Linked DNA regions of Homo sapiens: regions 2, 3, 4 and 5 are each linked to region 1. A link means that fine-mapping ties the variant in region 1 to the plasma level of a protein whose gene starts in the linked region. Region 1 holds a variant in brackets. A gene starts in each other region. All regions are shown on their forward strands.

Region 1 (6,372 bases):
CTCACTGCAACCTCTGCCTCCCAGGTTCAAGTGATTCTCCTGCCTCAGCCTCCTATCTGGGATTATAGGCGTGTGCCACCATGCCTGGCTAATTTTTGTATTTTTAGTAGAGACGGGGTTTCACCATGTTGGTCAACTCCTGACCTCATGATCTGCCTGCCTCAGCCTCCCAAAGTGCTGGGATTACAGGTGTTAGCCACCATGCCAGGCTAGACCATTCTTATTATCATACAGTCAAACATGCTGTAATTTCTCTCACTTTAAATAAAACTCTTTCTTGAACATGCAAATCCCTTCCAGCACCAATGCCTTTTCTCTGTGCCCCTTTACAGAAAAGAATCATTGAAATAGCTGTCTGTATTGTTTTCCTATCTTCTGTTCCCATGCTCTTTTGATCTCACTTCCAGGATTCCGCACTGCAATCCATCAACATTGCTCTTGTTAAGGTTACTGATGACCTTTCTATTATTGCTCAATCCATTCATCCATTTTCAGCGGATCAGTTAATCCATTTTCATCACCTCACTTGCTCTATCACTAGCATTTGACATAACGAAACACTGACTCTTTACTTTTGTTTCCAGGACAGGGAGGTTCAACTATTATTCCTTTCATACTCATTACATTTTGGAAAACTATATGCCCTCTCACACATTCATTTTGCTGTCATTTAATTGGTCATAGTATTTTATTTTTTTTTTTTTGAGACGGAGTCTTGCTCTGTTGCCAGGCTGGAGTGCAGTGGTGTGATCTCGGCTCACTGCAATCTCTGACTCCCTGGTTCAAGTGATTCTCTTGCCTTGGCCTCCTGAGTAGCTGGGATTACAAGCATGTGCCACCATGCCCAGCTAATTTTTGTATTTTTAGTAGAGACGGGGTTTCACCATGTTGGCCAGAATGGTCTCGATGTCCTGACCTCATGATCCTCCCACCTTGGCCTCCCAAAGTGCTGGGATTACCAGCATGAGCCACTGTGCCCGACGGGTTATAGTATTTTTTAAAACACTTCTAAATTTGAAATTATTTCGCACTCAAAGAAGAGTGGCCAAGATAGTACTGAGAATACTGATGAACATTTTCCCCAGCTTCCCCTCACGTGAACATATTATATAACCATCGTCCATTTGTCAAAACTAAAAAATTCACATTGGTACAAAACTGCACTTTATTCTGATTTCACCAGTTTTTTTCACTGATGTCCTTTTTTCTGTCCCAGGATTTAATCTAGGACCTACAATTTTGCATTTAGTCATCATGCCTCCTTAGTCTCTTCCAATGTGTGACAGTTTCTCAGTCTCCTTGTTTTTCATGACTTTGACACTTTTGAAGAATGCTACTCAGGTATTTTATAAGATACCCCTCAATTTGGGTTAATCCAAAATTTTCTTATGATTGGGCTGGTGTTATGGAGTTTGGGGAAAAGTTCTACCATAGAGGAAAATAGTGTTTCTGATTCCAGCATACACAATGTGTGTAAAGAGTGTATACAATGTTAGCATGACTTATTACTGGTGATATTAACCCTGGTCACTTGGTTAAGGCGTTTCTGCCAGATTTCTCCACTATAAAGGCAGCACTTTCTCCTGTTCACACTCTATTCATTAGGAGCAAGTTATTAAATCCTACCCTCACCCAGGAAGAAGGAATTAGACTTCCTCTCTTGAAGGGAGGAGTCTCAAGGAATTTAATCCACTGTAGTTAATTCAGACTATGGGGAGTTTCTTGGATGTTATACAAATATACTGTTTCTTCTTAAGTCTTTGGCCACTAATTTCAGCATTCATCAGTAGATCACACCTGCAATAATCATTATTCTGCTGCCTTCACGACCTTTCATACATTTTTAAGTTGACATCGAAAATTTTCTTCTTAAGTTTAAATCTTTGTATATTCGTATACTACCTGAATTTCAGCACTGTGTGTGTGTGTGTGTGTGTGTTTGTGCGTGTGTGTTTCCCTCAGAATCTTAGAGTTGCATATTTATACATATCTAATGTATGGAAAAATATCTGCCATATAATCTAACTGGCAAAACCAGTCTTCACAGTAAAAATCAACCATGCAGGGAAGCATATTTTTTCTGTCAGAAAAAAAAACTGGCTTCATTTTAATTAAGATAAACATTTTAATACACATCTCTGTCACAAACTTCTCACCTCCAAATTCTAATGCATGGAAAGACAGACAGATGTATAGCCATAGCACAAAACCTTCTCATGAATTCGTTCCCTGGATATACTAAGGTGCTGTCTTTTTCCCTTTTACTCTTTTTTTTTTTTTTTTTTTGGCATTCATCACAATGCCTTTAATTTTACTTATTTTTTTTAAATTATCTTTTGAAGTTTTTGTGAGTACATAGTAGGTATATATATTTATGGGGTATATAGTTTGTCTCTGTGTCCCCACCCAAATCTCATCTTGTATCTCCCATAACTCCTACGTGTTGTGAGAGGGATCCGATGGGAGATGATTGAATCACGGGGGCGGGGCTTTCCTGTGCTGGTCTCATGATGGTGAATGGGTCTCACGAGATCTGATGGTTTTAAAAACGGGAGTTTCTCTGCACAAGCTCTCTTTGCCAGCTGCCATCCACATAAGATGTGACTTGCTCCTCCTTGGCTTCCTCCATGATTGTGAGGCCTCCCCATGTGGAACTGTAAGTCCAATAAACCTGTTTCTTTTGTAAATTGCCCAGTCTCGGGTATGTCTTTATCAGCAGCATAAAAACGAACTAATACAGGGTACATGAGATATTTTGATACAGGCATGCAATGTGAAATAAGCACATCATGGAGAATGGGGTATCTATCCCCTCATGCATTTATCCTTTGTGTTACAAACAATCCAGTTACATTCTTTATTTTAAAATATGCAATTCAGTTATCATTGACTATAGTCGCCCTATTATGCTATCAAAGAGTAGGATTTATTCTTTTGTTTTATTATTTTTGTACCCATTAACTATCCCCATCTCCCCCTATATCCCTCCACTACTCTTCCCAGGCTGGTAACAACCTTTTTTTTTTTTGGACGAAGTCTCGCTTTGCTGCCAGGCTAGAGTGCAGAGGCGCAATCTTGGCTAACTGCAATCTCCGCCTCCCGGGTTCACGCCATTCTCCTGCCTCAGCCTCCTGAGTAGCTGGGACTACAGGCGCCTGCCACCACGCCCGGCTAATTTTCTGTATTTTTTAGTA[G/A]AGACGGGGTTTCACCGTGTTAGCCAGGATGGTCTCGATCTCCTGATCTCGTGATCCGCCCGCCTCGGCCTCCCAAAGTGCCGGGATTACAGGCGTGAGCCACTGGGCCCGGCCAATTTTTGTATTTTTAGTAGAGACGGGGTTTTACCATATTGGCCAGGATGGTCTCGAGTTCTTGACCTCGTGATCTGCCCGCCTCGGCCTCCCAACGTCCTGGGATTACAGGCCTGAGCAACCCCGCTCAGCCTGTAACCACCTTTCTACCCTCTATGTCCATGAGTTCAATTGTTTTTATTTTTAGATCCCACAAGTAAGTGAGAACATGCAATGTTTATGTTTTTGTGCCTGGCTCATTTCACTTAACATAATGATCTCCAGTTCCATCTATGTTGTTACATATGACTGGATCTCATTCTTTCTTTCTTTCTTTTTTTTTTTAATGGCGGAATAGAACTCCATTGTGTATATGTACCACATTTTCTTTATCCATTCCTCTGTTCACAGACATTTAAGTTGCTTCCAAATCTTAGCTATTGTAAACAGTGCTGCAACAAATAAGGTGTGCAGATGTCTCTTCAATATACTGATTTCCTTTGTTTTCGGTATATACCCAGCAGTAGGATTGCTGGGTTATATGGTAGCTCAATTCTTAGTTTTTTGAGGAACCTCAAAACTGTTCTCCATAGTTGTACTAATTTACATTTCTACCAAAAATGTACAAAGCTTGTCTTTTGGATATAAGTCATTTTAACTGGAATGAGATGATAGCTCATCGTAGCTCTGGTTTGCATTTCTCTGATGATCAGTGATGTTGAGCATCTTTTCATATGCCTGTTTGCCATTTGTATGTCTTCTTTCAAGAAATGTCTATCCAAATCTTTTGCCCATTTTTTGGATGGGATTATTAGATTTTTTCCTATAGAGTTGTTTGAGCTCCTTATATATTCTGGCTATTAATATCTTGTCGGAGGGGTAGTTTGCAAATATTTTCTCCCATTCTGTGGGCTCTCTTTCACTTTGTTGATTGTTTGCTTTGCTGTGCAGAAGCTTTTTAACTTGATATGATCCCATTTGTCCATGTTTGCTTTGGTTGCCTGTGCTTGTGGGGTGTTGCCAAGAAATCTTTGCCCAGCCAATGTCCTAGAGAATTTCCCCAAGATTTTCTTGTAGTAGTTTTATAGTTTGCGGTTCTAGACTTAAGTCTTTAATCCATTTTGATTTGATTTTTGTATATGGTGAGAGATGGGGGTCTGGTCTCATTGCTTTGCATACAGATATCCAGTTTTCCCAGTACCATTTATTGAAGAGACAGTCTTTTCCCCAGTGTACATTCTTGGCAACTTCGTGGGAAATGAGTTCACTGTAGGTGTGTGGATTTGTTTCTGGGTTCTCTATTCAGTTCCATTGTTACGTGTCTGTTTTTATGCCAGTCCCCTGCTGGTTTGGTTATTATAGCTCTGTAGTATAATTTGAAGTCAGGTAATGAGATTCCTCCAGTTTTGTTCTTTTTACTTAGGGATAGCTTTGGGTATTTCCTTTTACCCTTTCTTACAAAGTGTTTGTTTTTAGAAAACACACACTCAGGAATGATCAAAAGCGCTTGCTTTTTTTTTTTTTTTTAATTATTTTTCGGAGTAATGTTCCACAGTAAGATTCAGAATCAGTACCAGGAATGCCTTTCTTTTGTAAACCAGAAAAAATGCAAAAACGGAAGTGGAAAAGAAGAACTGGAAGTCCACAAATGCCTTCTCAAGCATCTTTTTAAGGAAAGTGGTCAAAAGGAGTTTGTGTATCTGGAAGTTGAGTTCTTTAAAGCTTCTTATGCTCACATATACTCTGGAAAATCTTGTGACCCCAGGGTATGTATGGCAATGCACTATATCAATAACGTGCTCTAAATTATTGGAGATCTAAACAATCCTCTTATTTGAGCAAAAATAGATGTATTTGCTTGTCTCCCAAGATATTTGACAAAAGTCATCAAGCATTCTATTATCAAAAATTATTTTAATTGATGTATCACCTGGCTATTCACCTAGTTTCTGTTATAATTTGGCTGGAAGAGAACGTGGAGAGAGGTGTGATAAGATCCTTATGGCAAGGTAATTGAAAAGTAAAGAGCACTGAAAGTCTTTGCAGATAACAGCATTCTTGGGGAGGAGCATTCCTGTACCGTTGAGATTTTGGTTGGTTCTTTTCAAATCCTCAGTTCTGCAAAAAAACATAAAAGTTACTTCTATGTGAGCCCCCAAAGGATATCACCAAGATATCTTTCCATTTAAAAAAAGTAAGATACAAATTTAATTTTAAATTTTCTTTTACCAAAAGACTATGTGATCCAACGTTCTGCAGTATTGGGTTATCATTATAATTATTATTCACAATTTCTCAAAAACATGCATATCATATAAATGTTAATATGTAAATATTAAACATTAAAATTAAATTTTATTGGAAATGTGTATCTTAATGAGGTGAATTGAAGTTTATTTTTCTTTTAGTTCACTTATTTATGAATGAATATTGCTAATTGCTGGAATAAGATAACTCTTAGAACAATATCTGTTCCTTTTTTTCATTTATATATACCTAAATATCGAGAAAACTAACTTACACAAATAAGTAAATAGGAATAGAATGTTATTGTACTGTTACTAAATTATTTATGTTTCTCCCAAGATATTTGGCAAAAGTCACAAAGCATTCTATTACTAAAAATTCTTTTAACTGATGCATCAGCTGGCAATTCAACTAGTTTATCTTATAATTTGGCTGAAAGAGAAAATTAGAAACCATTTGACTCGATGGTTTTCTAATTGTTAGCATCATTCACCTTCTCAACAGGGACACTGTCATTTTAGTAATCTCACTGTGTGTCATTCCAGATGTTTTTATACCCAGAGCCATGCTAATGGTAAGATTCATAAGGGGGTGAGGAGTGACTGCAGTTTATTAGGTGGGAGAAGAGTTGTTACAAAAGAAGCATTGGGAAGCAAGAATCTGCACGTTCATCATTGAAACATCCTCAAATCTAGTGATTTTAGCAAAGCATGCATAGGAAATTGAGGGCTTAGGAGTCTGTTTCCTTATGATTGTTTACCTCTTGGATACGTTTGATATAGCCTGCTCTAATAACTGCCTGTTGAGGGTGCCTGACTCTCCCAGTTTTCCTCCTTCC
Region 2 (6,372 bases), not on the chromosome of region 1:
TTGAAAAGGAGAGTTAAAATCTTGCCCTCTCGGCATGAGGTTATTGGGAAGAATCAGAGGTATGATTGATAGGGTCATGGCACAGTGGTTAAGAGTATGAACCATGATCCCAGATATCTTGGGTTTAAATCCCACGTCTGCTATTTACCAGCTGTGTGACTTTGGGCAGTATACTTAATTCTCAGGTTTTCTATTTCTCATCTATAAAGGGAACATCATTATAGTACCTACCTCATAAAGTTGTTATGAGAATCAAATACATGTCAAATCCGTGGTACAGGGGTTGACAACAGTAATCCAAGTTTGCTCTAATTTGAATAAACGCAGTTCTTCTTACTATACTGTAAAGACTATATCTGACCAGGTGCAGTGGCTCACGACCTGTAATCCCAGCACTTTGGAAGTCTGAGGCAGGTGGATCACTTGAGCCCAGGAGTTCGAGACCAGCCTGGGCAACATGGCGAAACCCAGTCTCCACTAAAAACACAAAAATTAGCCGGGCGTGGTGGCACACACCTGTAGTCCCAGCTACTCAGGAGGCTGACGCACGAGTATCATTTGAACCCAGAAGGCGGAGGTTGCAGTGTGCTGAGATCACACCACTGCACTCCATCCAGCCTGGGTGATGGAGTGAGACTCTGTCTCAAAAAAAAAAAAACAAAAAAAATACTATATCTGGCTACAGTAGTATTCCCAATGCCTGCCACATAGTTGGTGATCAGTAAGTATTTATTTTAAAAATGATCTGGGATTTCAACCCACATCTGCATAACTCAAAACATTTATGCCAGTGATTCTCAATGTATGATCCAGGGCTGTCTGCCTGAATGGGCCTGACCCCAAGAATCAGAGCCCCTGGCTGGCCAGAACTCTGGATTTATCCTCTCCAGTTCAGCAATAGGCTCACAGTGTAACCTGGGCCAGTTCTCCCTCTCTAGGTCTCAGTTTCCCCATCTGTAAAAGTAAGGGCTCTCTGGGGTGAGGAGCTGTTTATCCACATGACCAGCCCTGCTCCATGGGGGCTCCTGGTATCTCAAGACACGCAACCTTCAAGCCACAAAGGATCGTCACTGACGTTACTACTTTTATTTTGTAAGCCCGCATGTCTCAGGGCTCATGTGTGTGTGTCTGTGCGTGTGCGTACACAGGCACACATTCAGATCTGCAGGTGATGTGGCTTGGGGAGAGGCTGCCATAAATATTAAACTCCCAACTCCAAAGTACCCTGCAGAGATTCAGAACTGCAGGAATTCATAACATCATTCTCTTTCAAGAGTCAGTGTTCTCAGGAGTGTGGGCACCGTCATAGAAAACTATCGAAAAGGAGAGTGAAGCATTAGAGAACTGCTGAGCTTGGAGGGAACTCGGAGCTCATTTAGTCCCTTGTTCCCGAAGCTCCAAGCACAATCCGTGGTCAGCAGCATCACCCTCACCAGGGAGCTTGTTAAAATGCAGAGGCTCAGCCCCAAGAGGAACATGATGGATCAAGATTTGCATCTAAACAAGATCCCTGGGGGACTTGACTGCACGTCTTTGTTTCTGAAAAGCTGTCCTAGTCCCCAGCCCTCATCTGCATTTGGGGGAAACATGAGGAACAGAGAGGGGTGGAGTTTGTTCCAGGTCCCCCAGCCCATTAGGAGCAGGGCCTTGACAAAAAACCTGTAAGACTTTGGAAAAGGATTCAAAGCTCTCTGCGAGAGGCAGGCGTTTGCACAAAAGATGAATAAGTGCAGAAGAAATGCTCAGTGTTGCTAATTGTGTCCAACAGGGTTCAGGCAAGAAAAGAGAATCCAACTGCATTGGTTCTTGGGATTTGAATAAAGTGGCTATTTCTAGAGTTGGGGGACAAGCTTGAGGAAACCAACCAGGGACTGTTTTTCCTAAGGCTCAAGCAGCAAAGAAAAGCATCTGGGTATCCCAGCCCAAGGAGATAATAGGAGCCAAGGACAAGGCCTTATCAGGAGGGACACAGCCAACTGCCACACTTGTGATCTAGAGAAGACAGCAGGGAAAAGTGCCCTGACATCTGACCTCCTGCCATGCCACCCTCTGGCTGAACCCAAGTAGAGATGAGGAAACTGAGTCACAAAGTGCCCAAAGTCACCCCGTGGGGGAGTCAGGATTCAAATCCAGGCCATCTGGCCCCAGAGTCCATAAAGATAAACATAAGGTTTGTTTATTCCTTTGGCAATTATCTACTATTTGCTGCTCAGTATTCTAGACACTATGGATTCCAAATTCTGGGTTTTTCAAAATCTTTTCAGTAACACTTTTGTAGTGAGAATATTATCGGTGGCGAGTCCGCAACACTCCCAGCCCTTGTCTTCTCAGAGGAAAGAATTCAATTGAGAGACGCAGGCAAGTTTTAAAGCAGAGGCAAAGGTTTATTGAAAGAAGCAAAGTACAACTGAGAGATCAAGTGCCCCGCTCAACCTTTGGCTCGGGGCTTTTATACACTGGCTTGGTTCTGGGGTTTCTTCTCCTCCTTGATTCCTCCCTTCGGTGGGCTGCTGCGCCCTCCCTGCATGCGCAATGGCCTGCCAGCACTTGGGAGGGGCCGCATGCGCAGTGTGTTTACTAAGGTTGTGCGCATGCTCACTTGGGGTGATTTTCCCTTACTGGTCCGTCGCCGCAAGAAAAAGGTCATATACAAGTCAGACTCCAACATTTGCCCTTCTGCTCGACCTTACCAGGGAATTGTGGTTTGCTGGCTCCAGATGATGTCAACTATCTGTTAGGGAACTCCTCTCCCTCTTGGCGCCATTCGTGGCCACTTATCATGTCAGAGGGACAGTTTTATGATCGCCTGTCCATCATTTGATGCACTGCCATTTCTGGGGGCCCTCTCCTGCACAAGAACACAATAAACAGCCTTGTTAAAAGAGTCCCTATTTCACTGCAATAAGACTGAGTGGTGGCCAGAGTGGTAGCAGCTGTTGCTTTTGTGGAATTGGATGGACAGCCTGGTAGGAGAAAGGCCCAGGGGTTCTGACCAGCAGTGGGGTCGTGCTGCTCCCTGAGGCCTCTGCTGGGTCCTGGGCCATCAGCAGGGACCTTAGCCAGCAGTGGGCACCTGCAGGGGTGGAGGCCAGGCCTGGGCCATGTGGCAGCTCTAAGGTCCAAAGATTGCTGCTGTGGGAAATTCCCACCCCTGCAAATGACTCCCAGCCAGGGACATCCTTAAACTGCTGCCAGAGGAAGAGTGACATCTATGTCCCCATAAGATCCTTATGCTCCAGAATGTCCTCCCCCACTCTCCTCCCCTCCTGGGCAGGCTGAGGTCCAGGAAGCAAAGGCCCCTAGGCACACTGGGGATGCACCTGTGAGCCCTTTCCTGCTCCAAAGCCTCCCAAAGGCTGGCTCCTTACCCTGAGGCCTCTGCTCAGCTTGTTGCCTCCCAAGAGAACCCTGCCCTGACCAGAGTTTTGGAATGGCATCCTGCAGACCTGGACTTAAATTCCTGCTGGGTGACTGCAGCCTACATCACTTCACCCTGCCAAACCTCAGTTTCTTCATCTCAAGACAAGACTAAAATATCCACCTGGGGTTGCTGATGCAAGGATGAGAGGAGACGTGCAGCTTAACCAGCACAGCGCCTGCACATAGTAGGTGCTCAATAAATATCAGTTTCTTTCCAATTTCTGCTGGGTGCTGCAAGGATCTCAGGAAATGGAAGACTCAGCCGTGCCTGCAAGGAGCCATCAGACTGGTGGTGTGGGGACTGAGGGGAGGGACGGATGAGGATCCCAACAAACCTCAGCCCCAGTGACAGGAGCAACACGGTACAGAGGAGCAGAGAGGCCTGGACTGTGGGGTTCCCTGTGCTTAACGTGGGACATTCTGATCTTAACCTCAGTGCCTGCCAGTGCTGTTTGTGACCTATTGGGAGTCACCCTGTTAATCCCACCACATTCAGTTGGTTGAGGCCATCATGAAAACCTGCCCAATTTCAAGGGAAGGGGGCAGAAACATTACCTTTTGATGGAAGGAATATCAAAGAATTCGTGGGCATATTTTTAAAGGACCACAATTATCAAAAAGCAGAGTGGTTAATGCTGTGGTGGGGAAAGCGCAAAGGGTTCTGGGACCTCAGAGGGGACCCTTTCTAGAATCCAGAGAAGCATGGGAGTGGTCAGGGAAGGCTTCCTGGGGGTGAGGGCAAAGCAGAACTCACAAATGTAAGCAGGGCTGGGGCAAAACTCTAAAAATTAAACACAGTCTGTACTATAAATTTTGTTTTCCAGAATGAAATTTTACTATCTTTACTTACTGCGAATATATGCCCGGGACCATACCCCCAAGAAAATAAAAATTTTAGAGGCTGGGCATGGTGGCCCAAGTCTATAATCCCAGTATTTTGGAAGGCCAAGCGGGAGGCTTACTTGAGCTCAGGAGTTCGACACCAGCCTGGGCAACATAGCAAGACCTCGTCCCTACTAAAATACAAAAAATTAGCTGGACATGGTGGCTCACACCTGTAGTCCCAGCTACTTAGGGGGCTGTGGTGGGAGGATCACTTGAGCCCAGGAAGTTGAGGTTGCAGCGAGCGATGTTCATGCCACTGGACTCCTGCTTGAGCAACAGAGTAGACTTTGTCTCAAAAAATGAAAAAAGAAAAAAAAATTGTACGTATCAACAAGCAAAAACTTTTTTAACACTTATAATTCTACCCCCACAACCAGAGACAATGCCTCATGACTCCTTGCTAAATATTTTCCAGATTGTTGAACATAGAAGCCTATTTTGAACCCCCCAAAATAGAACCTTACTCTATGGTGCCATCGGAAACGGATGCCTCATGACATCCCTTTCCTTGCCAAGAAATACCTTTATTTCTGCAGCCTCACTTTAAGGGGCATGTCATAATTCATTTAACCAATGCCCTTCTGGTGGATACATGAGGTTGGGTCTCACTTCTCCTGTCCTGTTTCCCACAGCATAGCAGTGGTATCTTGGAGCAGTGATTTACTGGCACACTGACTCAATTATGTATTTAAGGGCAAGTCCCTGAAATTGAATTCCTGGGTCACAGGGCATGCAACTGTTTAAACATTTGCCAATTGCCTTCCAGAAAATTTCACCACCAGCAAGGTTTGAGAAACACTGTTTTCCCATTGGGGGAAACATTTATTTTTTAAATAAACGAGCCAATATATTTTAAAAAAGAGAGTTTGGTTGGTGCCAGATGTAGCTTCACTCTCAACCCTGCCCTCTGCTGGGGGTGAGATCTCAAGGGAGCTATGTGGCTTTTTTGAACCTCAGTTTCCTCATCTGCTAAACCAGGCCTTCCTAGCCGAGCTCTTAAGAGACTGGCTGAGATGAGGCAAGATGAACAGTGATGAATATGGGGTCTTTCTGTGGGGAGGGTGGACAGGGATGATCATAGGAGTCAGGCTTCCTCATCCACTGATCTGGGCAGTGAAAACTGGCTTCTAAGTATGACCTTATGACTTCAGTGATGTCGCAAGCAGGTTCCAGTCCCTGTGCCTCCCCTTCCCGCTCCCAGGAACCCATCCAGCCTCAGGAACTGCCCCCAGCCATCGAGCCTTGGCTACTTAAGGGACCTGGGCCCAATCCACAGCTGGGACAGTCCTGGCCCACTGCACTGGGAATCTAGGATGGGGGCCTTGGCCAGAGCCCTGCCGTCCATACTGCTGGCATTGCTGCTTACGTCCACCCCAGAGGCTCTGGGTGCCAACCCCGGCTTGGTCGCCAGGATCACCGACAAGGGACTGCAGTATGGTAAGAAGCCACATCTGCTGGCTGGACTTGGCAAACCCACGCTCCAGGCTGCTCTGGGTACAGTGGGGACAGGGAGTGGGGACACAGACCGGACCCTCTCCCTGGGGCAGTGCCACCTTCTGGGTCAGGTGGCTCTGGCTCCTATTCTGGCCTTACTGCCCACCAGCTGAGTGCCCTGGGCATGTTATTTGTGGTAGTGAGGTCCTCCACCAGCCAACAGAACACAGCTTTGCGTGCAAGTAGTTGATTTGGGAAATGATTCCAGGAAACACTGTAGGGAATCGGTACTGAGATGAGGAAGGGAGGGCAGCCAGGAGAGAGTGTGCAATTAAACCAGCCACCACCTCTGATGATGGGAACCACTCAGCTGGGAAAATTCTGCGTAAAGTTTGGAAACACATGCCTCTGAACTGGAAGTCAGAATTGTGGTCACCTCTAGAGGCAGGCAGAGACCCTGAAGGGCATGAGGGAGGTCTGCCGGGGTGCTGGAAGTTGCCATATCTTGATCCAGGTGGTGATCACATTCCTGTATAAACATTAAAAATTATTTAGCAATACCTTTAAAATTTGTGCCCGTTAGGTACTTTATGTATATTATTCCTCAATTTTAAAGAATGGGCAGGCCAGGCA
Region 3 (6,372 bases), not on the chromosome of region 1:
CCCCCTGACATCCCAGCCATGGTCATCAGAAGGTCATATCCCAGATCTATGGCCCCATCTCGGCCTCGTTCCCTGGCCTTGCCCAGGCAGTTTTGAGTAGCATAATACAAAGCTGTGCCCAGGTTGTAGAAGGTTCCCACTCCTGGCAGCAGCTGGACTACATTGTGCACAGCTTGCTCCTTCTCATTCTCACAGTCCTCTGTCGGGAGGGAGCGCCCGACCCTTCCTGTGCTTTGCTGCTCCCTGGCTAACAGCTGCAGAGCAGAGGCCAGGGCTTCCACTGACACGTTCCTCTCTGTGCTTCTGCCTTTCTGGAGCCCTCGAAGATGCTGGATGAGGACCTGTGTAGCATTCACACCACCCTGGCGGTAGAGCTGTAGCTGTAGAGCCCAAACATCAGCCTGACAACCAGCTTCCTCCAGGGCATTCCTTAGAGCCAGGCTTACCAAGAACTTGGGTAGAGGGGCCATGTGGCTGAAACCAGGCAGTGACTTTGGGTGCAGAAATTGGCAGGACAAGGGGTCTGAGGAGGGTGTCTGGGATTCCAAGGACAAGGGAAAGTGCATCAAGACATTTGTCTGCTTTCCATATGAAGTGGCATCCACAGGGTGCAGCAGGAGGTAGCAAAGTAGCAGCTCAACTGGTATCATGATGAGTCTGAGGCCACGCATGTCTGGAGCAGAGTACCCTAGAAAGGGGAGAAATCCGAAACATACAAACCATTTCCCTAAGGGCGATGGTGAGCCCAAGACTCAGTTAGGGGGACACCTCATACATCACCTGCTTCCAAGCTTTTGTACTTTCTTTTTAGAGACAGGGTCTTGCTCTGTTGCCCAGACTAGAGTGCAGTGATGGGATCACAAATCACTGCTGCCTTGAATTCCTGGGCTCGAGGGATCCTCCTGCCTCAGCCTCCCAAGCAGCTGGGACTACAGGTGCGTGACACCATGCCCAGCTAATTTTTAAATTTTTTGTAGAGACGTGGTTTTGCCATCTGGCCCAGCCTAGTTCTGAACTTTGGGCTCAAGTGATCCTTCCACCTCCGCCTCCCAAAGTGATAGGCTTCCAGATGTGAGCCACCGCGCCTGGCCCCAAGCTTCTGTTCTTTTTAGGTAAAGGCCTAGGAAATAGGAAATGCACCCCAGTTGCTCCCACTTGGTCTCCCCCATTTACAGGTCACCAGGGACTTCTGTTTTATTTCCACCCATATATAGGGACCCCAAATTACCACACAGTCCAGTCATTGAGAAGTGAGACTGCCTTGGTAGGTTTGATCGCTTCCTGATCCTGTTCTGCCTAGTTCTGTGTCCCATGAGGAAAGGAGATATTTGCTTTCCCCTATGATCAGTGAAGGATGTAATCTCTGCAAATATTTGCCCATTTATACTGGCTGCTCAAACCTTGTGCCCCTTGTCACACACTCAACCTCTATGCCTACAGTCCTGTTCTTTGGCATTTCCTGTATGTCCCTGCCACATTCCCACTCTAAGCTCATGATAGGAGCCAGGGAAATTCAGAATTAGGAAAGATGAGATGTTTGTGATACTCTCATTTCTCTTCATTTTAAAAATTAAATTAGCGGCTGAGCATGGTGGCTCACGCCTGTAATCCCAGCACTTTGGGAGGCCAAGGCGGGCGGATCACAAGGTCAGGAGTTCGAGACCAGCCTGGCCAATATGGTGAAACCCTGTCTCTACTAAAAAAAAAAAAATATATATATATATATATATATATATACACCCAGGCGTGGTGGTGGGCGTCTGTAGTCCCAGCTACTCAGGAGGCTGAGGCAGGAGAATTGCTTGAACCCGGGAGGTGGAGGTTGCAGTAAGCCAAGATCGCACTACTGCACTCCAGCCTGGGTGACAGAGTGAGACTCCGTCTTAAAAAAAAAAAAGGAGGGGAGCTGACACCTACTAAGTGGAGAGGGGCAAGGCTAACACTGGTCACATATGTGTTTAAGGGAAGAGGTGAAATAAAGAGCATTCATCTGTCCTAAGTGGTCTCCAACATTTCTAACTACTTACTGTGTGCCATCCTTGAATACAGTCCTGGGAAAGGAGACTCATTACTTATGTGATATTGAATAGCTGAAATGAGCCGGGATCAATTCCTGGATCATTTTCCTCACAAAGCACTTCAGAATAGCTGTGGAACATTTGATAGATTATATTGTCACTGTCCATGGACAATTTAAATGATCTTGAGAGCTTCTTCAACTTTTTGCCTAATTCTTCAATATGCTCCCAAGACTCATACCTGCAGTTCTTGGTGATGTGGACACCCAAAACTTTGAACTGTGACACCAAGCATCATGGGAGATGGTTTCTCAGCAAACTCAATCACCATCTGAGCTACCTGGTAGGCCAGCTACCCCAGTGGGTATATTTGCCACCATCCATACATTTCCCAGGATGGGCAGCTGGGTGCTGGGTTTATTCACACTTCCCTAAGGGACTACTAGATTCGTCACAATGATGTTGGTATTGCCTTCCTCCCCATTGAACTTTTTGACTCTCACGGATGAGGGTTTCAGTGGTATCCTTTCCTCGCATCTGAAACTGCAGAACATGGGCCTCAGTTGGGCAGCCCACCTCCTCCAAGGGCACCCTCAGAGCTAAGTTGGACAGGTACTCAGGCAGAGGGGCTAGGGAGGGGGCTGTGTGTAAGAGATCTTGGCAGATCCTGGGATCTGGGAGAGGAATCTGGCTCTCCATGTTCTCCAAATAATGGAGAGCATGTTTGATGGATGCCCAGTCTCTGTTAAAGATGGCTGGAGGGTCAGAGTCTCATTCTGAGCATTTCTTGGAAAGGCAGACACCAGGGACAGCAGGACACAGCAAAGCAGCAGCACAGCTTGGACCATGGGGGGACAGCAGAGCAGCCCTGCTGGAAGGAAGCAGTGCTCAGGTTGGGAAGTGGAGAAAGGCTCAGGACAAAGAGACACCAAGACTGGCCAGAGCTAGAAAGTGTCTTAGCTCTTGGAAACTTCGGTTGCCCTGAGCACACCTCATCTTCACTCTTAAAGGATGTGGGTGATCCTCCTATTTTGAGGAGAAACAAGTCAGAGGAAAAAAACAGTCCAAACATCTCATTTGCTTTGGTATCTTCATGACCTGAATTACTATTATTGTTGTTGTTGCTGTTTTTAATCTGCCCTTTCCCAGAATCACAAGGAAACCAGAAAGTTGATGGCTTCCAAAACAGTGAAGGACAAAACATTTGCAAATATTTATGCATCTCTTCCCAGCCCAGACTTTGTCCTTCTCACCTTTGACCCATACTGACAAACTGACCTTTCCCCTTTTAGGCCCTGCAGTCCTGTCCCATATCTTTTTTTTTTTTTCTTTTTCTTTTTCTTTTCCTTTTTTTTTCTGGAGACACAGTCTCACTCTGTTGCCCAGGGTAGAGTGCAGTGGCACGATCACAGCTCACTGCAACCTCCACATCCCGGGTTCAAGCGATTCTTGTGTCTCAGTCTCCCTAGTAGTTGGGATTACAGGCACGCACCACCATGCCTGGCAAATTTTTGTTTTGTTTTGTTTTCTGGAGACAGTCTCACTCTGTTGCTCAGGCTGGAATGCAATGGCGTGATCTTGGCTCACTGCAACCTCCACTTCCCAGGTTCAAGAGATTCTCTTGCCTCAGCCTCCCGAGTAGCTGGGACTACAGGTGTGCGCCACCACGCCTAGCTAATGTTTTTGTATTTTTAGTAGAGATGGAGTTTCACCATGTCAGTCAGGCTGGTCTCAAACTCCTGACCTCGAATGATCTGCCTGCCTCGGCCTCCCAAAGTGTTGGGATTACAGGCGTGAGCCACGGCACCCAGTGACATATCTTTTCTATCCTAAGGTTTTACCCTAAACCTATATTTGAGCTGAGGAAAAGGTCCTCCGTATCTTCTTGAGGGGAGAAAGGGTAAGGCAGAATAGCTGGTGATCTCTGGGACCCCTAAACCATTTTTCTTTTCTTTTTTTTTCTGAGACGGAGTTTCGCTCTTGTTGACCAGGCTGGAGTGCAATGGCGCGATCTCAGCTCACTGCAACCTCCGCCTCCCAGGTTCAAGTGATTCTCCTGCCTCAGCCTCCCAAGTAGCTGGGATTACAGGCGTGTGCCACCATTCCCGGCTAATTTTGTATTTTTGGTAGAGACGGGGTTTCTTCATGTTGGCCAGGCTGATCTTGAACCCCTGACCTAAGGTGATCTGCCCACCTTGGCCTCCCAAAGTGCTGGGATTACAGGCTTGAGCCAGCCACAGCGCCTGGTCACCATTTTTCTTATTAAAAGAATATATTGGTTGGGAAGCCAAGGCAGGCAGATGGCTTGAGCCCAGAAGTTTGAGACCAGCCTAGGCAACATGGCGAAAGCCCCGTCTCTACAAAAATTATAAAAATTAGCCAGGAGTGGTGGCATGCACCTGTAGTCCCAGCTACTGGGGAGGCTGAGGTGGGAGGATCACCTGAACCTGGGGAGGTCAAGGCTGCAGTGAGCCATGATTACACCACTGCACCATCCAGACTGGGTGACAGAGCGAGACTTTGTCTGAAAAAGAGAATATACTGGATGGGAGTCCAGGGAAACTGGACAGATTGACAAATAAGACAAAATCAGAGCAACTTTTTTTTTCTTTTTTAGAGTCCAGTCCAGGTATTGCTCTATCTCCCTGGCTGGAGTACAGTGGCCTGATCATGGCTCACCACAGCGTTTAACTCCTGGGTTCAAAAGATCCTCCTGCCTCAGCTTCTCAAGTAGCTGTGACTACTGGTGTGCACCACCATGCCTAGCTAAAATTTTTTTTTTTTTTTTTTGTAGAGATGAGGTTTCACTATGTTTCCCAGACTGGTCTTGAACTCTTGGTCTCAAGCAGTCCTCCCACCTCAGCCTCCCAAAGTGCTGTGATTAGAGGCATGAACCACTGCACCTGGTTTATTTTTCACTTTTCTAATTCCAATGCAAAACACAAATAAAACATGTCCATCAGCTGAGCAGTAACTTTCCAAATCTAACCAAAACTCCAGGAATTAGGCTTTATCTTGGGTTTAGGGGTAACATTAGTCCAAAAATTAGGGAAATAAGACATCTGATGCCTCCTAAAAATGGTACCAGTTCCTACATATCATTATGGCCTAAAGTTTCCTCTGATGTCACTCACCTCAGGCACATGGCCAAAGGGACTAGGCCAATGGCAGGGTCCAGGGTCCCTCCCTCTATTTTTTTCGGTTCTTTCAGTTCCCAGGAGTGGCCCCTGACAACTAAGAGCAAAGACAGAAGCAGAGGAGTAAGTCTCCAGGGACACAGTGCCAACTTAGAAACAGCAAGAACTAAGTGGAAAGGAGTCCAACACTGTCTGAAATTACTAGACCCCAAACCCCTGGGGAATCCCTAAGACAATATATATACATATACCTACATGGATAAAATATACGTACACACACATACACGTATACCAGGCTGGAGTGCAGTTGGTACAATCACAGCTCACTGCAGCCTTGAACTCCCAAGCTCCAGCAATCCTCCCACCTCGGACTCCTATATATCTGGGACTTCAGGCACGTACCACCACACCTGGCTAATTTTTAAAATTTTCTTGTAGAGAAGGGAACTCACTATGTTGGCCAGGCTGGTCTCGAGCTCCTGGGCTCAAGGGATCCTCCTGTCTAGGCCTCCCAGAGTGCTGAGCCACTGCACCCAGCCTCCTAGGACTCTATAGTTTCTGTGTAGCAACACTAGAAGGAGTGAAAGATTTAATCCTTGTCTCCTAAGATCTATCACAAAGCAGAAATATCCATTCTTACCAGTTTTTCCTCATTGTACTGGAAGTTCTAACCAGTGTAATGTGGAAAGAATAAAAAATAAATGGCATAAAACTAGAAAGGAAGATGTAGAACGATATTTATTTAAATACAACATAGCTCTGGCTGGCTCAGTCGGTAGAACATGAGACTCTTAAAAACAACATGGGGGCTGGGCGCAGTGACTCACGCGTGTAATCCTAGCATTTTGGGAGGCTGAGACGGGCAGATCACGAGGTCAGGAGTTCAAGACTAGCCATGGCCAGCATGGTGAAATCCCGTCTGTACTAAAAGTACAAAAAATTAGCCAGGCATGGTGGTGCGCACCTGTAATCCCAGCTACTCGGGAGGCTGAGGCAGGAGAATCACTTGAACCCGGGAGGCAGAGATTGCAGTGAGCCGAGATCTCGCCACTGCACTCCAGCCTGGCAACAGAGTGAGAGTCTATCTAAAAAAAAAAAAAAAAAAAAAAACCAGCAACAACAAAAAAACAAAAAAAAGACATGGGGCGGGGCTTGAGACCAGGAGTTCGAGACCAGCCTGGCCAACATGGTGAAACCCCATCTTTACAAAAAATAAA
Region 4 (6,372 bases), not on the chromosome of region 1:
TGCATTTCTGAAATAAAATATGCTGCGAATGCTGTTCTTACCCTTCCTGCCTTGTGATTTCTTAATACTTGGCTTCCTTTTGGGTTGGTTTTCCTGGACTGGGTGCCCAGTTGTTCCTTCTGCATGTGTGCCATCTTGCTCATCAAGCTGCCTTTCTAATATTGGGGTTGCATCTTCCATCGTAGTACAAACATCTGAGGGACAACCAGGTGTAACTAGAATTATTAACTTCAAGGGGGAGAACCACAGACACACTAATTATCCTACTGTTGCATAGTTTGGCAGCACCTCTGCCTTCAGTTTATATATAACTTTCTAGATTTCTGGAACATGTGCTAAATATTTACATGCTCGCATGTGGCAGAGAAAGTAGCTAAGTGGAAATTGCATTCCATTAAAGGTAGTTAATGGTATCCAAGTGGAAATGGAAGTATTTGAATGATTACAACTTGAGTCTTTCCTTTAAAATCATTATCTCCAAGTCATTGGCAAGAGCTGTTGCCAGGAAATAAATTATTTTGTTTCATTAAGAAAAGGCAAGCCGGGTCCGGTGGCTTACGCTTGTAATCCCAGCACTTTGGGAGGCCGAGGTAGGTGGATCACCTGAGGTCAGAAGTTCGAGACTAGCCTGACCAACATGGTGAAACCCTATCTCTACTAAAAATAACAAAAATTAGCCGGGCATGGTGGTACATGCCTGTAGTCCTAGTTACTCCAGAGGCTGAGGCAGGAGAACCACCTGAACCCGGAGGCCGAGGCTGCAGTGAGCTGTGGACAACAAGGGCGAAACTCCGCCTCAGAAAAAAAAAAAAAAGGAAAAGAAAAGGCAGCTGCATACATTTACTTCAAGCATGAATCTAGGAAGCACCATTAGAGAGTGCCTACCCTGGAATATTCTAGTCTATGGGGCTTAGACACTACCTTCGGTTTAAAAACCACTGTTGGCGTTATGTCGCTCACCGTTCACACAGAGTGTCCCAGGGCAGCACATGGCATCTCGCTGGCACCTCCTCCGCAACCCACGACATGTAGCACAGAACGGCTTCTCATCGCGGGGCTGGAGGCAGAACTTTCTGGTATTGCAGTCCGTGTCAGACAGGCACTGTGAGCCCTGTGGAGGGAATCTGTTATCACAAGGCTAGGAAACCCCCAACACGATGGAAGATGACTTATTATTGAAGGCAGGAGGCGGAGGGAGCCAAAGGACAGTGGCGCTGTGACAAACCCTGGGCAGCATCTTACTCTCCAGTGGAAATGGTTTTCTCCCACAAAGGGAAGCTCATGTCACCCGGGGAGACCTAGGCGCTGCAAAGGCTATTTGAGTTTGAAAAATTGACTTAACTCAGAATTTAGTTTTCCTGTGCTCTTTGTGAAAATGGGAAAAAATGTTTTCCTATGTGTGTCTTAACAGGTGAGTATGAGATTTTCAATATATCTTAACTCTAGAAGCTGGCTACAGTTTCATTAAACATACTATTGATGTTTGTGGCATTCCTATTTGATTTTTTACTCTAGTGAATCACATTTAGCTTAGAGACCCTTCCCTAAGTGAACTGTCCTTTGATTTTCAATGATGCCTCATTGACATAGAGAAAGAGATACCGAAGATCAATTGTTCTCATACACAGTTGATGCTTCTACATAGACATACAACGTAGGTGTAGCATATATGATATATGTAATAATCTATACGATATATAATAACATATACACATACATAAAGCGATTCCTAAAACAACTCTCTCTGTGAAGTTAGATGGTGACAAGGCAATGCATCATGGCCCTCTGTTTAAATTCTCATTCCCATGTTTGCTTGCTGGCTGTGTGAGCTTGGGTAAGCTCTTCAACATCTCTGAGTCTTATTTCCTCATCTGGAATTAGGGAATGTTTCACCTATCTCAAATTGTGAGGAAGAGTACATGACGTATTACATGTAAAAGAGCTGGCACATAGTAGAGCTTCCAAAGTGTTCGTTTATTTCGTGATTTATAGACAAACGTATGGCCGAATGATGTGAAAAGCCACTGTGTTTATTTCATACATTCACACTAAGGCCACTGATCCTACCAGGATGCCCTCCCAAATCCGAAACCAATTCAATTTACCTGCTAGGTAAGACATTTCATACATGAATCAGAATGACTTACTAAAGCCTAAACAAAACACCCCAGCTGTCAGCAGTCCCGTACCTCGCCCCCCTCCCTAGCAGCCTTACCTTCCGGGCCCCATGCAGGTCAGCAGAGCTCCTGATGTTGTTGAAGTCCAGGACCAGAGCTCCCAGGGGAGAGCAGAGCCAGCTCAGCCCCAGCAGGACGGCCGCCACCATCCTTCAATCCCGGGGCTCCTGGAGGGTCCCAGCACTGTGCGTCACCAAAGCGAGGCTGCTCTCCACCCAGAGCAGAGCTTCCACTAAGCTGGCAGCTCAGCACGTCGTCTGTTTGTCACTGCTTTTTCTGAAAGAAGTAAACCTTAGTCTGAGTAAGGTGCGTGAAATCGGCTGAGCAAAGTCTGACCAGCAGGTTCCTCCTGAAACTATTTATAACCAGATGTGCCTCCTCCCCGCTCCGTTCCTTCCTCCTGCCCCACACAGGCTTCAACAAATCCCTTCAAATCTGTTTGATCAATAGTTCAAAACAAGGACTCAATAGAAGGAGAGAAGAGGCAGGGCCATGCGGCTTCTCCTCCAGGGGTTCAATCCCTCTTAATTATTGCATATCAAAGTTAGTTCAAAGGGCCACGGCAGAGCAGGATGTCTGTATCAAAGGCAAACTCTGATAATCACCTGCATTTCCTACCTTCAGTAATCCTTTGGGGGTAGGGAGGGAGTCTGCCCTAAGATCTGTTTTCACAGCTAATTGTGCTCAAAGAAAGGATGAATCATACTGGCCAATATGCTATAGAGGATGCCAAAAACTAATGAGGTACAAAATACACTGAGAAGCTGTAAACTGGGCTTCAGATAGTGAGGACAGATAGAAAAAGAGAAAACGCCCCCTGATTAGCTCTGGCATCCAGATGTCAAAATCCCAACCGCTTAAAAGTTGTGAACGTAACAGCACCTGTTCTGACTAAATGCCATTTGGGAAATTACTTTCCTTTAAATGAAAATTGAACTGTTTGAAGTTAGGGTTATTAGGAAAATAATGTAATTTATGAAAATCCCATTTTTCAATGGTGGGAACAATGATAGCGCATTTTACACAATTCAGTACGAAGCTTTGGGTCCATTTTATCAGCAACATATTTAATTTGTGTTGCATTATGTAAAACTCACTTAAGCAGAACAAGGATCCAAGTCTCTGGCTGATTTCAGATGAAATTTCATGTATTTCCAATTTTCCTAATACGAATTTTTTAAAACTTCTGCTTCATCCCTTTCCTGTCTGATTTTTTTCCATTTGGACTATTAGTCAGGTAATTTAGACATGTGCTTATCACTGTCTTAAATACTTTAAGGGTAGAACAATCTAGATCTGGATCAAAAAATCATTTTTTCTCTTCATTGTTTCATTGCTCTTAGCATAGAGTCATCTAAAATGCATTTTTTCTATGCCATAAATGATAATCTTATTATTTACTACATTTTCCTGCAGAACAACCTAACATCAATTCATTGACATGAATCTCAGCATTCTGTGCATGGGAACATTCTCAATTTTGAGTAATGCAGTGCCATTCCGAGGGTGATGCAGGTGATTCGAGCCTTCCTACTACTTGGCCCTTGTCCTTGGGTTGGTATTGCTTGTCTACCTCTCGTATGGAAGTTACTTGTTTTAATCCCTTAAACTGACATCAAACAACACCCTTTGATAGCATGATAACCCTGGTGACTAGGGGTGTTACAGAATTTATTTTCAAGTTGTACAATTATGACCAAGGATAAAGGAAAGAGCCCCCAGGGTTCTGTCTCTGCCGGGTTTCTCTGCTTCCTGCTGCCTCACTGTAAGGGAATTTCAGGTTACCAAAGGCCCCTGGCAATATACACAGGCGAAAGAACTGACGGGAACTCCTGTAACACGGCACAAACAGCCACTGAGCACTTAGAGCACTTGGCATGGAACAGAGCCTCGGATTACATGTTAGGAATAAAATTTGAAACTCCAATGGCCGGGCACAGTGGCTCACACCTGTAATCCCAGCACTTTGGGAGGCCAAGGTGGGAAGATCTCCTGAGCTCAGGAGTTCAAGACGAGCCTGGGCAACATATTGAGATCCTGTCTCCACAAAAAAAAAAAAAAAAAAAAAAGTAGGCCGCGTGCGGTGGCTGACGCCTGTAATCTCACCACTTTGGGAGGCTGAGGTGGATGGATCACCTGAGGTCAGGAGTTCGAGACCAGCCTGGCCAATATGGTGAAACCCTGTCTCTACTAAAAATATAAAAACTAGTCGGGCGTGGTGGTGGTCACCTGTAATCCCAGCTACTCGGGAGGCTGAGGCAGGAGAATTGTTTGAACCTAGGAGACCGAGGTTGCAGTGAGCCAACACGGTGCCACTGCACTCCAGCCTCGGCAACAGAGTGAGACTCCATCTCAAAAAAAAAAAAAATTAGCCAGTCATAGTGGTGTTCACCTGTAGTTTCAGCAACTCAGGAAGCTGAGGTGGGAGAATCATTTAAGCCCAGGAGATTAAGCCTATATATATATATATATATATATATATAGAGAGAGAGAGAGAGAGAGAGAGAGAGAGAGAGAGAGAGAGAGAGAGAAAGATTCAGACAGAAAACTTGTATGTATGGATGACAGAGCCTGGGTGACACAGAGAGAGAGAGAGATCCAGATAGAAGACATGTACATATGGATGATTTCAATGTATTATGACAAGCACTAAAATAAAGGTATAAATATAAGGGTGGAGGACTTATGAAGATATAAATACAGACGAAGGCATGATTTAGACTTTCTAGAGAAATAAAGGAATGTGTTTACAGATGAGGTAATATTTGAGCTGAATTTTGTTGGTTGCATAGGGGCTTCCTAAGTTGGGAAGTCGGAGATATCCTCACCTGGGCTCAGAGGGTGAGGTGTGTGCAAGAGGGAGGAGGTGCACTCAGGTGCTAGTGAGAGATTGTGTGGCTGCGGCAGATGATGGAAGGATGAGATGAAGCAAGATGCAGACCCTGATATGCCATGCTAAGAAAATCAGATTCTATTCTCTGCACAATGTAAAGTCATTGGAGATATATCAGACTGAGAATGCCATGATCCGCTGGGTGCAGTGGCTCATGCTTGTACCCAGCACTTCGTGAGGAGGATAAAGCAAGAGGACCACTTGAGGCCAGGGAGCAGCCTGAACAACATAGCAAGACCCTGTCTCCACAAAAAATAAAAAACCTGGGCATGCCAGCACTTGCCTGTAGTCTCTGTTACTTGGGAAGGTGAGATGGGAGGATCACTTGAAGCCAGGAGTTCAAGAGCAGCCTGGGCAACATAACAAGAACCCATCTCTACGAAAAATACAAAAATTACCCTGGTGTGGTGGCACGTGTCTGCAGTCCTAGCTATTCAGGAGGCTGAGGCAAGAGGATTGCTTGAGCCTAGGAGGTCAAGGCTGCATGATCCTATCCCTGCACTCAAGCCTGGGTGACAGAGCGAGACCCTGTCCTCCCACCAACAAGAAGGAAGGGAGGGAGGGAGGGAAAGAGAGAAAGAGAGACAGAGAAAGAAAGAAAGGAAGGAAGGAAAAAAGAAAGAAAAGAAAGAAGGGAAAGAAGAAGAGAGAGAGGAAGGAAGGAAGGGAGGGAAGGAGAGAGGGAGGGAGGGGGAGAGAGAGAGAGAAAGGAAGGAAGAAAAGAAAAGAAAAAAGAGAGGAAGGAAGGGTGAAAGGAAGGAAGGAAGAAAAAATGAAAGGAAGACAAACGAAAGGAAGGAAGGAGAGAGAAGGGAAGGAGAAAGAAAAAGAGAAAGAAAGAAAGAGGAAAGAAAGTGAGAGAAAGGAAGGAAGAAAGGAAGAAAGAGAAAGAAAAGAAAAGAAAAGAAAAAAGGGAGGGAGGAAGGGAGGAAAAAAGGAAGGAAGGAGAGAGTGGAAAGAGAGAGAGAGAGAGAGAAAGAGGAAGAATGTGAGAGAAAGGAAGAAAGAAAAAGAAAAGGAAGGAAGGAAGGAAGGAAGGAAGGGAGGAAAAAATAAATGAAAAAAGGAAGGAGAGAGAAAGGAAGGAGAAAGAAAGAGAGAGAAAGAGAAAGAAAATGAGAGAAAGAAAGAAAAAGAAAGAAGGAAAGAACGAACAAACGAAAGAAAGAGAAAGAAAAAGAAAGACACTGGTGTGATCTAATTTGCTTTCAGGGCACAATGCTGGTGGCAGTATGGTGCTTAGGTTGCACTGGGAGAGAGGGGAGGTTGGGGGCCACTTAGGACTCAGTTGTCATTGCCCCG
Region 5 (6,372 bases), not on the chromosome of region 1:
GTCCACCAGGTGTGTGCAGGTGAGGGAAACAGGGGAAAAGGCCCTTTCTGGAGACAGTAGGGGTGCTGGCTGGGAGGCCTGGGATGGGGAGTGGGGAGGCAAGGGGGCCTGTGGGTCGAGGTTGGAGCTTGCTGTAGAAGAGGGAGAATTCCAGAGGCTGAGAGTGCAGGTGGAGAGGAGGAGGAAGGGAGGAGGGCGGGCAGGGGGTGGCTGGGTGGGGCTCTGTCTATAAAGAGTGAAGCTCAGCGTGTTGGTCCTGCAGATGGGACAGCTTGGCCTACAGCCCGGCGGGCATCAGCTCCCTTGACCCAGTGGATATCGGTGAGTCTTTTCCTTGAACATGACTGAGATGAACAGCTTTTCCCTCCAGCACAACTTGTTCCTACTTTATACAACCTCCTTCCCTTGCCATATGCCTGGGGCTTAAGAGGGGGGATGTTCCCAGTACCCACTCCCCTCCTCTTCCTCAGTCCTTACCACTTCCCTCCACGACCCCAGGTGGCCCCGTTATTCGTCCAGGTGCCCAGGGAGGAGGACCCGCCTGCAGCATGAACCTGTGGCTCCTGGCCTGCCTGGTGGCCGGCTTCCTGGGAGCCTGGGCCCCCGCTGTCCACACCCAAGGTACTGTGTTCGGCAATGCCTACCACCAAGTGCCCCTCTCCCCATGCCCCCACCCCACCCCTTTTGTCTCTTATCTCCTCCGGAAGTCTCCCCAATCCCATCTCCACTGAATTCTCCCGCTCCTGACATGCAGGAACTCCTGGTGTTTGGTTAGCTCTTGGGATGGGGTCGGGGAGATGGAGAGTCCCCAGTTCCTTCTTCGAGAGCCCCATGGAGTCTTTTGCAAGACTCCTAAAGATGTGAGGGAGCAGAGGGTGGCTTCCAGCTGTGGGCAAAGCCAGTTACTGCCAGGGATGTATTGTAGAATCCTAATCCTGCCGAGCCAGGGGTGGGGTTGGAGATCAGGGCCCTGGAGACTGACAAGAGTGGATTCCCATCCTGGTCCCTCCATGCAGTCCAGCTGAGAGTTAGTTGCTCCTAAACCATTTTTTTTTTTTTTTTTTTGAGACAGAGTCTCACTCTGTCACCCTGGCTGGAGTGCAGTGGCGCGATCTTGGCTCACTGCAACCTCCGCCTCCTGGGCTCAAGCGATCCTTCTGCCTCAGCCTCCCAAGTAGCTGGGACTACAGGCGTGTGTACCATGCCCGGCTAATTTTTGTATTTTTTAGTAGAGATGGGGTTTCACTATGTTGGCCAGAGTAGTCTCGATCTCCTGATCTCAGGCGATCCGCCTGCCTCAGCCTCCCAAAGTGCTAGGATTACAGGTTTGAGCCACTGTGCCCGGCTTCCTAAACCTTTAGGAGCCTCCGTTTCCTCAGCTGCAAAGTGGGAATCTAAAATTCCCACTGCATGGCTCTGACTTGAGGGTCCAGTGAGCTCATGCCTGCAAAAGACTAGGCCTCATGTCTGGCGGCGGCAATAGTAACTGTTCCTGTTATTAATAGGGAACTCTTTCCTTCTTCCCCACTCCCTACCGCAGAGCAAGCACTTGAGGATTTCAGTCGCCAAAGGACAATTCCTGGGCCTGGGGTGTCCCCACGGGAGCCCTGACACTGGGTCCTACATCCTCTGAGTTTCAGCAGCTGGCCAAAGCAGGGTCCCTGGCTGGGCGGCAGACCCAGGGTCCCACCCTCCTTCCCTGTCTGCCCCCACCTGACCCACCTGCCCCTCGGCTGGGTCTGATGGGTCCAAGTCCTTGGCCTTTGCCTGGGAAGGGGGTTGGGCTGTGGTCTGATTGTTTTGCTATCAGAGCCAGGCCCAGCCCAGCCCTTCGATCCTGGCCTCCAGCCTTGGGAACTACCTGCCTGGCACTGCAGTCCGAGGTTCCAACAGAATGCGCTGCCCCTTGCCCTCAGAGGCCGCGGTTGGGAGACACCTGGAGGGCTCGAGTCCTCCCTTTCCCTGCTCCTGCTGGGCTGGGCTCTGCAGGGACTCAGACTCGGCCTCTGGAGGTTAGTTCTGGCAGAGGTGAGATTGCAGAGAACTCCAAAGGCCATTTAGGCAGAGAATTGCACCCCAGCTTCCTCCACTATCTCATCAGCTCATCCTCGGCTCATTCATTCCACCTGCTCATCCCCCCAGAACTTTCTGGCATCACCTCCTCCTCCTCTGGGCACCCCCCACAGTGCCTGTGCTTCCCCCTTTCTGCAGAGATCAGTTTCCCGGGAGCTCCCTGAAGACAACACTAGGTCTAATTCATCTGTGTGTTTCATCTCTGCTTGTCTAGACATTGACATTTACTGAGAGCTCTTTACTTTGTATTAAAACAATTTTTTGTTTGTTTGGTTGGTGTTTTGTTTTGTTTCATTGAGACAGAGTTTTGCTATTGTCGCCCAGGCTGGAGTGCAATGGCGTGATCTCGGCTCACTGCAACCTCCACCTCCTGGGTTCAAGTGATTCTCCTGCCTCAGCCTCCAGAGTAGCTGGGATTAAAAGCGCCCACTATCAGCCAGGCACAGTGGCTCACGCCTGTAATCCCAGCACTTTGAGAGGCCAAGGCGGGTGGATCACAAGGTCAAGAGATCAAGACCATCCTGGCCAACATGGTGAAACCCCGTCTCTACTAAAAATACAAAAATTAGCTGGTCGTGGTGGCGGGCGCCTGTAATCCCAGCTACTCGGGAGGCTGAGGCAGGAGAATCGCTTGAACCCGGGAGGCAGAGGTTGCAGTGAGCTGAAATTGAGCCACTGCACTCCAGCCTGGGTGACAGAGTGAGACTCTGGAAAAAAAAAAAAAAAAGGCGCCCACCACCATGCCTGGCTAATTTTTGTTTTTTGTTTTGTTTTGTTTTGAGACGGTGTCTCACTCTGTCGCCCAGGCTGGAGTGCAGTGGCGCGATCTCGGCTCACTGCAAGCTCTGCCTCCCGGGTTCACGCCATTCTCCTGCCTCAGCCTCCCGAGTAGCTGGGACTCCAGGCGCCCACCACCACACCCGGCTAATTTTTATATTTTTAGTAGAGACGGGGTTTCACCGTGTTAGCCAGGATGGTCTCAATCTCCTGACCTCGTGATCCGCCCACCTTGGCCTCCCAAAGTGCTGGGATTAAAGGCATGAGCCACCGCGCCCGGCCTAATTTTTATATTTTTTAGTAGAGACGGGGTTTCACCATATTGGCCAGGCTAGTCTCAAACTCCTGACCTCAGGTGATCCACCCACCTCAGCCTCCCAAAGTGCTGGGTTTACAGGCATGAGCCACTGTGCTGAGCTGCCAATCAGCTCATTTTTAGGAGGGAAGAACTTGGCTGGGGAGGGGTGGTGTTGGCCCCTCCTCACAGTGCACCTGCACTCCGAGTCACCCTTTTCCCCAGAGCAGGAGTAGAGGTGGCCTTGGTCCGTTCATTTGCTGGTTCCACACCCTTCCCAGCCGGGACCCAAGGGTCCTCTCCAACCTCTGGCTGTCCCAATATCCAGGGATAAGGGGTGAGCCAGGAGGCTTTTTCTTTCCTAAGGCTGTTCCTCAGCCTCTGCCGGGCCTGGAAGGGTTGTGGTATGAGCAGACAGGTATGCAGACAGGTGCCCTTGCCTGTGGCTGGCCCTGCCAAGTTAACATGCAAGGGTGCGAGTATCTGGGCGGCTGTGTGGTTGCAGGTGTCTTTGAGGACTGCTGCCTGGCCTACCACTACCCCATTGGGTGGGCTGTGCTCCGGCGCGCCTGGACTTACCGGATCCAGGAGGTGAGCGGGAGCTGCAATCTGCCTGCTGCGATGTGAGTGGGGCCGTGGGGGCTGGGGGGGTGGGGTGCACACACAGCCTTGCTGCCAGCCTACACCCTAACCTGGGCACCCCCCTCTGCTCACCACAGATTCTACCTCCCCAAGAGACACAGGAAGGTGTGTGGGAACCCCAAAAGCAGGGAGGTGCAGAGAGCCATGAAGCTCCTGGATGCTCGAAATAAGGTTTTTGCAAAGCTCCACCACAACACGCAGACCTTCCAAGGTGGGCAAGACCTCTGCTGGGCATCTAGGGGGCCTGCCCTCCCTGCCTGCAAGCCCATGTGTGGTTCAGACCCCGAGGGAGGGAATTGGAGACCAGAATACTGACACCTGCCTGAACCCCAAACAAAGCCAGTTGCTGGTGAGTGGGGCACCAAGTGAATGACCAACTGATTGAGTCATTGTCCAGTTTTTGTTTCTGGAGATGGGGTCTTGCTCTGTTGCCCAGGCTGGAGTGCAGTAGCATGATCATAGCTCACTGCGGCCTCAAACTTGTGGGTTCAAGCAATCCTCCCACTTCAGATTCCCCAAGTAGCTGGGATTACAAGTGTGTGCCACCAGTCCAGCTCTTTTATTATTATTTTGAGACAGAGTCTTACTGTGTCACCCACGCTGGAGTGCAATGGCGCCATCACAGCTCACTGAAGCCTTGACCTCCCAGGCTCAAGCAATCCTCCTACCTCAGCCTCCTGAGTAGCTGGGACTACAGGCATGCTCCACTAATCCAGCTCATTGTTATTTTATTTTTTATTTTTATTTTTTGAGATGGAGTCTTGCTGTGTCATCCAGGCTGGAGTGCAGTGGCACGATCTCGGCTCACTGCAACCTCTGCCTCCTGAATTCAAGCGATTCTCCCGCCTCAGCCCCCTAAGTAGCAGGAGCACAGGCCCACGCCACCACGCCTGGCTAATTTTTGTATTTTTAGTAGAGACGGGGTTTCACCATGTTGGCCAGGCTGGTCTCGAACTCCTGACCTCAGATGATCTGCCCGCCTTGGCCTCCCAAAGCACTGGGATTATAGGCATGAACCACCATGCCTGGCTCCAGCTCATTATTATTATTATTATTTTGAGACAGGGTTTTACTCTTGTCACCCAGGCTGGAGTGCAGTGGCACAATCACATCTCACTGCAGCCTTGTGTTCCTGGGCTCAAGCAATCCTCCCACGTCAGCCTCCCAAGTAGCTGGGATTACAGGCACACACCACCATGCCTGGGTAATTTTTTATTTTCATTTTGCAGAGACAGGTTGTGCCATGTTGCCCAGGCTGGACTTGAACCCCTGGACTCAAGCAATCCACCTGCCTTGGCCTCCCAAAGTGCTGGGACTACAGGCATGAGCCACTGCACCCAGCCAGTCCAGCTCTTTTAATCAGGACACTTTCCACTGGTACAGATGGAAAGCTCAAGCACATGGGAGACTCATTGGCTTAAATAACCAGTCAACAGCTTCAGGCTCAGCTGGATCCAGGAGCTCAAAGGATGATGGCAGAGCTCTTGCTTATTTCTCTCTCCATTTCTCCAGCAGGCCCTCATGCTGTAAAGAAGTTGAGTTCTGGAAACTCCAAGTTATCATCGTCCAAGTTTAGCAATCCCATCAGCAGCAGTAAGAGGAATGTCTCCCTCCTGATATCAGCTAATTCAGGTAAGGACTCTTGGTCATGTGACTGTCTCCCATCCATCACCTTTGCTGAGGGTTGAGGGCTCGTGATTGGCTCACACTGGGACAGGAGATTCACCTCCAGGACCCAGGAGAGGTGGTTGTGCGGTCAGTGCCGCAGATTCACAGGGGAGGGTCCTCGGTGGCTGTCCACTGCTGTGACTCAGCGCAAAGACACCACAGCAAGTGAGAAAGTAAAGCCCCAGGGGAGTGGCCCAAGAGCTCCAGGGCCCCCCAAAGCCAGCAATTCTCCAGCAGGGACCGGGTGGTTGTCCTGTAATTCTACTGAATTCTGACATTGTGTGTGTGTGTCTCTCTCTATATATACATATAAAATATATATAAGTAAATATATAATATATAAACATATATAATATATAAGTAAATATATAATATATAAATATATATAATATATATAAGTAAATATATAATATATAAATATATATAATATATAAGTAAATATATAATATATAAATATATATAATATATAAGTAAATATATAATATATAAATATATATAATATATATAAGTAAATATATAATATATAAATATATAATATATATAAGTAAATATATTATATATAATATATAAATAATATATAATATATAAATACATATAATATATAAAAATAATATATAATATATAAATATATAATATATAAATAATATATAATATAAAGTATATATAATGTATAAATAATATATAATATATAAATATATATATTTATTATTATTTTTTTTTGAGATGGAGTCTCACTCTGTTGCCCAGGCTGGAGTGCAGTGGCGCGATCTTGGCTCACTGCAAGCTCCACCTTCCGGGTTCACGCCATTCTCCTGCCTCAGCCTCCCGAGTAGCTGGGACTACAGGCGCCCGCCACCACGCTGGGCTAATTTTTTGTATTTTTAGTAGAGACGGGGTTTCACCATGTTAGCCAGGAT

Alleles and levels. Positions count from the first base shown, and alleles are read on the strand shown. Strength reflects both the effect of a copy and how common the allele is.
For the plasma level of the protein whose gene starts at base 5,584 in region 2, G is the low allele of the variant in region 1 and A is the other (weak association).
In carriers of allele G in region 1, the plasma level of the protein whose gene starts at base 1,356 in region 3 tends to be lower than with A alone (weak association).
As copies of A replace G in region 1, the plasma level of the protein whose gene starts at base 2,510 in region 4 goes up (weak association).
For the plasma level of the protein whose gene starts at base 259 in region 5, allele A in region 1 goes with a lower level than allele G (weak association).

What was found. A credible set is the group of variants that fine-mapping cannot tell apart. PIP is the chance, under the fine-mapping model, that this variant and not a neighbour inherited with it causes the effect. The UK Biobank Pharma Proteomics Project read protein levels with antibody pairs (Olink). The fine-mapping took linkage between variants from a reference panel, not from the people measured, so its PIPs are less certain.
Region 2: LBP starts here. The variant in region 1 is the best candidate, but not a certain one, in a credible set for the plasma level of the LBP protein (UK Biobank, PIP 0.63).
Region 3: APOF starts here. The variant in region 1 is the best candidate, but not a certain one, in a credible set for the plasma level of the APOF protein (UK Biobank, PIP 0.83).
Region 4: DKK4 starts here. The variant in region 1 is the best candidate, but not a certain one, in a credible set for the plasma level of the DKK4 protein (UK Biobank, PIP 0.55).
Region 5: it holds the start of CCL25, and the variant in region 1 is the best candidate, but not a certain one, in a credible set for the plasma level of the CCL25 protein (UK Biobank, PIP 0.85).

Annotation. Positions count from the first base shown.
Region 1 is chr17:68,824,470-68,830,841 of GRCh38, forward strand. The region is part of intron 1 of LOC105371874 (a long non-coding RNA gene); the gene reads left to right. Among named protein-coding and RNA genes, the nearest start is that of ABCA8, 130 kb to the right of the region's middle. The variant G/A (reference allele first, on the strand shown) is at 3,195.
Region 2 is chr20:38,340,899-38,347,270 of GRCh38, forward strand. It overlaps LBP (lipopolysaccharide binding protein), which reads left to right and starts at 5,584. Exons shown (of 15, transcript NM_004139.5): 1 at 5,584-5,742. The coding sequence starts at 5,619. RefSeq lists enhancers at 1,303-2,079, 2,860-3,637.
Region 3 is chr12:56,361,502-56,367,873 of GRCh38, forward strand. APOF (apolipoprotein F) reads right to left here and starts at 1,356. Exons shown (of 2, transcript NM_001638.4): 1 at 1,229-1,356; 2 at 1-688. The coding sequence starts at 1,244.
Region 4 is chr8:42,374,720-42,381,091 of GRCh38, forward strand. It overlaps DKK4 (dickkopf Wnt signaling pathway inhibitor 4), which reads right to left and starts at 2,510. Exons shown (of 4, transcript NM_014420.3): 1 at 2,216-2,510; 2 at 961-1,111; 3 at 42-194. The coding sequence starts at 2,326.
Region 5 is chr19:8,052,502-8,058,873 of GRCh38, forward strand. It overlaps CCL25 (C-C motif chemokine ligand 25), which reads left to right and starts at 259. Exons shown (of 6, transcript NM_005624.4): 1 at 259-321; 2 at 499-621; 3 at 3,651-3,768; 4 at 3,865-3,998; 5 at 5,300-5,419. The coding sequence starts at 549.